Linked DNA regions of Homo sapiens. The protein of the gene in region 2 interacts with the protein of the main gene of each other region in a pairwise test. Each region holds a gene or a part of one and is shown on either strand. Other genes may lie near its edges.

Evidence for each region. Proteins that work in one complex are often made in the same cells at the same time.
Region 1: the proteins of NUDT3 (region 2) and OAT interact in a two-hybrid assay, tested with the Homo sapiens proteins (one large-scale study listed by BioGRID and IntAct).

What each region holds. Positions count from the first base shown.
Region 1 is NC_000010.11:124,398,520-124,401,923, reverse strand, and holds part of OAT (ornithine aminotransferase, mitochondrial isoform 1 precursor), read left to right. Parts: intron 1-84; coding exon 85-198; intron 199-939; coding exon 940-1,084; intron 1,085-3,404. UniProt on the Homo sapiens protein: Catalyzes the reversible interconversion of L-ornithine and 2-oxoglutarate to L-glutamate semialdehyde and L-glutamate.
Region 2 is NC_000006.12:34,382,670-34,386,169, forward strand, and holds part of NUDT3 (diphosphoinositol polyphosphate phosphohydrolase 1), read right to left. Parts: intron 1-3,500. UniProt on the Homo sapiens protein: Cleaves a beta-phosphate from the diphosphate groups in PP-InsP5 (diphosphoinositol pentakisphosphate) and [PP]2-InsP4 (bisdiphosphoinositol tetrakisphosphate), suggesting that it may play a role in signal transduction.

The DNA.
Region 1 (3,404 bases), on a different chromosome or scaffold from region 2:
GGTGACAGCGAGACTCTGGGGAAAAGGATGCTTAGTAGAATGCTTAGTGCTGAGAAATGACATGGTGAATTGACTGTCTTTCAGGTGTCTGCAGTGCTGTGTGATGATGACATCATGCTGACCATTAAGCCAGGGGAGCATGGGTCCACATACGGTGGCAATCCACTAGGCTGCCGAGTGGCCATCGCAGCCCTTGAGGTAAAGACTGATACAGCCACACAGTGTCTATTCTTTAAAGCAATGTTGAAGTGATTTTTAATTTGGGCCCACTGGTATAATAAAAAATTCAATAAGAATGCCAAATATTAGAAAACATGAAGTATAGAGGAAAAATTTTAGGAACAAGATATTCTCAAAAAGTAATTTAAACTTGGCCTAGTAGACTGGATTTCCTCCGTGGGCTTCCTGAGTTCACAGTCACCTGGCGCTTTGAGTTCTTCGGCCCTGGCTGGCCCTCATAGAACTCTCAACTGTGACCCACCTACCAGACCCGTCTTTTTGCTTAGCAAGCAAGTCTTCTTTCAAGTGTGGATTTATAATGTTTTCAGACTGATTTTTTAAGTGCCTGCTGAAGGTATACAATTATTATGTAATCTCTGAGGACAGATCTTTGTGAGGGGGGAAGAAACTATTGCAGTTTAGGAATTACATTTCGTCCATTGATGTATTCAATTAATGACAGTATGTGAGTTGCATTAAATAAACTTTAATCCTTATTTTGCCATGAATGATTGGCAATAGATTTGTGATGAAAGCAAGACTCTGAGCTAGTGTATGTTTAATTAGAAACTAATACAGGCTTTGAAAAATAGCAATGAAAGTTAAGTTCCTCTGGTATTTTATCTAGTCATGTTTTTCCTGTGTTTACAGTCCCCGTTGTCCTCCAAAAAACAAAAAAAGGACAGTCTTAATATTTGTATAATTTTTCTTTAAACGTAGGTTTTAGAAGAAGAAAACCTTGCTGAAAATGCAGACAAATTGGGCATTATCTTGAGAAATGAACTCATGAAGCTACCTTCTGATGTTGTAACTGCCGTAAGAGGAAAAGGATTATTAAACGCTATTGTCATTAAAGAAACCAAAGGTATGGAGATAAAACATTTACTCAAGATAATTTTTTAAGGAAGACCTAAAATACACTTGGTATTTAATTTAATTAATTTATTTATTTTTCGAGACGGAGTCTTGCTCTGTCTCCTAGGCTGCAGTGCCGTGGCGCAATCTTGGCTCACTGCACTCTGCCTCCTGGGTTCAAGCAATTCTCTGCCTCAGCCTCCTGAGTAGCTGGGATTACAGGCGCCTGTCACCACGCCCAGCTAATCTTTATATTTTTAATAGAGATGGGGTTTCATAATGTTGGCCAGGCTGATCTCAAACTCCTGACCTCGTGATCCACCTGCGTTGGCCTCCCAAAGTGTTGGGATTATAGGCGTGAGCCCACCGCGCCCGGCCACACTTTTTTTTTTTTTTTTTTTTTAAGATGGAGTCTTGCTCTGTTGCCAGGCTGGAGTGCAATGGCGCCATTTTGGCTGACTGCAACTTCCGATGCCCCGGTTCAAGCGATTCTCCTGCCTCAGCCTCCCGAGTAGCTGGTATTACAGGCACGTGCCAACACGCCCAGCTAATTTTTGTATTTTTGGTAGAGATGGGGTTTCACCATGTTGGCCAGGGTGGTCTCGATCTCCTGACCTCGTGATCCGCCTGCCTCAGCCTCTGAAAGTGCTGAGATGACAGGCATGAGCCACTGCTCCTGGCCACACTTGGTATTTTAATTGGGTGTTGGGATGTTCTGTTTGAAACTGCTGACTGACATAATGACCAAACCTTTTAGACAGATTATTGTCTGATTTATAATTATATTAAGAGTATAAAAAATATAGCTCTTTTCTAAATGAAGGCACATTTAACCAATTTGACCCTTGTTCCTTTAAGACACTTATTTTTCTGCCTTAAATTAGTCATGCAGTATTTAGAGAGTTCAAGTTTTTTTGTTGGTGAGTCTGGACTTGAAAGTGTCCTCTTTGCTATCCTTCCCTCCCTCACTTTGATGCTTTGTGTCAGTAGAGGTTATAGGAGCAGCAGAAATAATGATATGAATGACAGTTATGGGGTCAATAATAAAAATAATGCTGGCTGTCACTTAATTGGGTGTTTGATGTTTTAGTACATCCTTTGTAACCCTTAGGTGTTCCTTGCTGGATTTTCTTGTGATAACTCTTCCTTTTAAAGCAACGATTCCAACCTCCCAACCTTGGCTGCACTTAAAGAATCACCTGAGGGGCCGGGCGCGGTGTCTTATGCCTGTAATCCCAGCACTTTGGGAGGCCGAGACGGGTGGATCACGAGGTTAGGAGATCGAGACCATCCTGGCTAACACAGTGAAACCCCATCTCTACTAAAAATACAAAAAAATAGCCAGGCGAGGTGGTGGGTGCCTGTAGTCCCAGCTACTCAGGAGGCTGAGGCAGGAGAATCGCTTGAACCTGGGAGGTGGAGCTTGCAGTGAGCTGAGATTGCGCCGCTGCACTCCAGCCTGGGCGGCAGAGTGAGACTCCGTCTCAAAAAAAAAAAAAAAAAAAAAAAAAGAATCACCTGGGGAGCTTCTTAAAAAAATGAGTCAAAGCCTGGCCTTACCCCAGGGATTCTGATTTGACGGATCTGGGACGGGGCACAGGCATTAGCAATAGCCTTTAAGGTGATTCTGATGTGCAGCCAGGTTGAGAATCGCTGCTATAATATGTTGAGCTCAGGAAGCGAGTCCCTTTTTGGAATGTGTAGTGTTCACTGGGTTTTGAGTATTGCCCATTTTATGTCAGTTAATCATCTGTATCATACCCAAGTTCTTTTTTTTCTTTTTTAGAATTTTATTTATTTTATTTATTTTATTTTTTGAGACAGTGCCTTGCTCTGTTGGGCTGGAGTGTCTGTCGCCAGGCTGGAGTACAGTGGCATGATCTTGGCTCACTGCGACCTCCACTTCCTGGGTTCAAGCGATTCTCCTGCCTCAGCCTCCTGAGTAGCTGGGACTACAGGCATGTGCCACACCACGACAGGCTAATTTTTGTATTTTTATTAGAGATGGGGTTTCACCATGTTGGCCAGGATGGTCTCGATCTCTTGACCTCATGATCTGCCCACCTCGGCCTCCCAAAGTGCTGGGATTACAGGTGTGAGCCACTGCATCCAGCCTATACCCAAGTTCTTTTGCATTAGTTCCTTGTGTGATTAATACAGCAGCCTTAGCACATTTTTTTTTTTTTTTTTGGCTTGGTCTTTTTCATTTATGAAAAACTATGATATGTCTAATCATATCATTCAAACCTAGTTATGTGCTTGCTGAAAAGTGAAGAGTAACTTCATTTTTAGGAGTAAAAACAAAGCAAGCTTGCAGCTCCAAGCTTCCC
Region 2 (3,500 bases):
ACTAAAAATAAATTAGCCAGGCATGGTGGTGCATGCCTGTAATCTTAGCTACACGGGAGGCTGAGGAAGGAGGATCGCTTGAGCTCAGGAGGTCAAGGCTGCAGTTAGCCATGACTGCATCACAGCACACCAACCTGGATGACAGAGCAAGACCCTGTCTCAAAAAAAAAAGGAAAGGCCGGGCGCGGTGGTTCTCACCTGTAATCCTAGCACTTTGGGAGGCCGAGGAGGGTGGATCACAAGGTCAGGAGTTCGAGACCAGCCTGGCTAAGGTGGTGAAACCCCTATCTCTACTAAAACTGCAAAAATTAGCTGGGTGCGGTGGCAGGCACCTGTAATCCCAGCTACTCGGGAGGCTGAGGCAGGAGAATCGTTTGAACCTGGGAGGCGGAGGTTGCAGTGAGCCAAGATGGCGCCATTGCACTCCAGCCTGGGTGACAGGGCAAGACTCCATCTCAAAAAAAAAAAAAAAAAGGAAAAAAGAAAAATCACAATCCTTCCTCCTTTTAAGAAAAGCATAAGCACTATGTCTGAGCTCATACTCCTTTTTATTCATCATTGCTAAGCTGCTCTTACAAAACACATCAGAAATATGTTAAATAACCAAGCCGAAGAAAAGATTTTCTAAGCAGTTCATAAAACTTTACTGTTTTATGAACAAAGAGATCAACTAATTGTATACAAAGGAAGTCTATTTAAGGGATCATTTCATTTTATGGTGTTTTCTTTTTGGAGCCAGGGTCTCTCTCACTCTGTTGCCCAGGCTGGAGTGCAGTGATGCAAACACAGCTCACCACATCCTAGACATCCCCAGCTCAAGCGATCCTCCCACGTAGGCCTCCCAAAATGCTGAGCAGTCTTATTTATCCATGTATTCCCAAGGTCTTACACAGACACTCCAAAAATGTGTGCTGAAGAAATGAATAAACAATTGTATTCCTGAACAAGGGCCCTTCCTTTCTGTACTAGGCTATGAAGATATAGATTGCTTCAGACACAGCACACAGTAGATGTGCAGCACTATTTTTATTGAGAAATGAGAATTAAAGCAGAAACAAAGAAGTAGGATTGGGGCAAAGACATAAAAAGAATGGAGACTGCAGTATGAATTCAGACCAGAATTCACACCTTGGGAAGGAGGCAAAAAATAACGTAATGGAAGACATGACTAACTGGTATTAGGCAAACAGAAGGGAAAGCAGGGGAAAAAAGCTTCCAGGAAAGATTTTGAGAAATGAGAAGCAGAAATGTCCAGTCATGACGGGATCAATGAACCCATCATGATCTTAGAGCAATGTAATATTGAACGGTGACCAAGATGTGTTACAAAAGGACTCCCAAACCACCTTGGGATCTGCTGGAAGCCCTTTGTCATGATTATTGCCTCTGGGATTGCTACCTGTGTCTTACTCTCTTCTCTAGAGCCTGCTGGAAGGTGCAGTCTGCAGAGACGTCAGTCCACCTGCTCCTCTGGGGCATTTTACAGACAAACAGGCCACCAGTCTCTGCCCACTGAAGAGCTCCAATGTCAATCATCTCTCCGTTCCAACCTGGTGAGCTGAAGGATCTGAGAAAATGTGAAGCAGCTCCCCTTTGCCAAGAGATATAGGGCTTCTAGTGGAAAAGTACAACAAACGAACCTAACAACTTAGGAACAGCTTCATCCTTTCTTTATTAAAACAGCTTTAAGGCACAGGGAAATCTAACTCACACAATCCTATTAGTAGTCATTTTTCTCCCTGGGTAAAAACAGACCCGTTAGGAGCAGCTTTAACTTTCCTAGGCACTGTGATGTCATTTGTTGTATGTTCTGTATCATTTGGCCTTTCTAAGAGTACAAACAAGCCCATCCCTGTCTCTCACTTCTCCTCACAGAGGCTCTAAAAAAGGAAAGGCTGGGGGAAGAGGGATAATCTCACTGGAAGTACTTTAGCAGGGCCAAAGTTGAATAATATGACAGATGAATATCATATTACCCAATTTTGGATTATAAAATCTTACTCAAGAAGTTACAGTCTTCCACACAGTGTATGATAAAGTATCAAGTAAAGGATACGGTTGATTAAAAAATATAAATGTAGGTTGGGCGTGGTGTCTCATGCATGTAATCCTAGCACTTTGGGAGGCTGAGGTGGGAGGATCGCTTGAGCTCAGGAGTTCAAAACCAGCCTGAGTAACATAGTGAGACCCTGTCTCCACACACACACAAAATAGCTGGGCAAGGTGGCAGGCACTTGTACTTCCATCTACTTGGGAGGCTGAGGTGGGAGGATCACTTGAGCCTGGGAGGTGGAAGCTGCAGTGACCTGAGATCGCATTACTGCATTCCAGCCTGGTCAACAGAGCAAGACCCTGCCTCCAAAAAAAAAAAAAAAACTCAAAACAAGATCTTGGCCCTAAGAACAAAGATTAGCAGATAAATATACATTTATATATACATACTTTATATATTACTAATTATATATTATGTGCAAAGAGGAAGCAAATGAAAATATTAAATAATCAGGCCAGATGTGATGGCTCATGCCTATAATCTCAACACTTTGGGAGGCCAAGAAGGGAGGATCACTTGAGCCAGGAGTTCCAGACCAGTCTGGGAAACATGAGACCTCATCTCTACAAAAAATAAAAAATATGGCCAGGCACAGTGGCTCATGCCTATAATCCCAGCACTTTGGGAGGCCGAGGCGGGCGGATCACCTGAGGTCGGGAGTTCGAGACCATATTACATATTATTAGCAAATAAATCTTTTATATGTATATAAACATGTAGTTATTTGGTAATCTTTGTAGGGCCAAGATCTTGTTTTGTTTTGTTTGTTTGAATTGTTAAGTTGTCTTTCTTTCATATGCCACATCCATAATCAATGACCTATGTTTTCCAGTCCTAGTTTTTATAAAGAACAAAAACCTAAAAACATTCATGAAGTAATCTATGTGCAGAGTCCTTCTAGACTTTTAAGATCCCCTCTCCAGTCTTCTCAGTTTGTTTGTCCATATAAGTGAGCAGTAATTTCTTTTTTTTTTTTTTTGAGACAGACTCTTACTCTGTCACCTAGGCTGGAGTGCAGTGGCGTGCTGTTGGCTCACTGCAACCTCCGTCTCCTGGGTTCAAGCAATTCTTGTGCCTCAGCCTCCCATGTAGCTGGGACTACAGGCTGCACACCACCGTGCCTGGCTAGTTTTGTATTTTCAGTAAAGAGGGGGTTTCACCATGTTGCCTAGGTTGGTCTCAAATTCCTGGGCTCATGTGATCCGCCCACCTTGGTCTCCCAAAGTGCTGGGATTATAGGCGTGAGCCACCATGCTGAGCCTTGTTCTTTTCTGAACTCAAAGTTCACTGGTTAAGTTGCACAATTACAATAACAAGTACAATGAACATAAACAGATAAAGGAATAGAGGTAACTAATTGTAATCACACAATTTGGCAGCTGGGAGGCCACCTGGTTGGGGTACACCAGACCCAGCAGCCTGCTGTGTAACAGCCAAGCATTCAGTG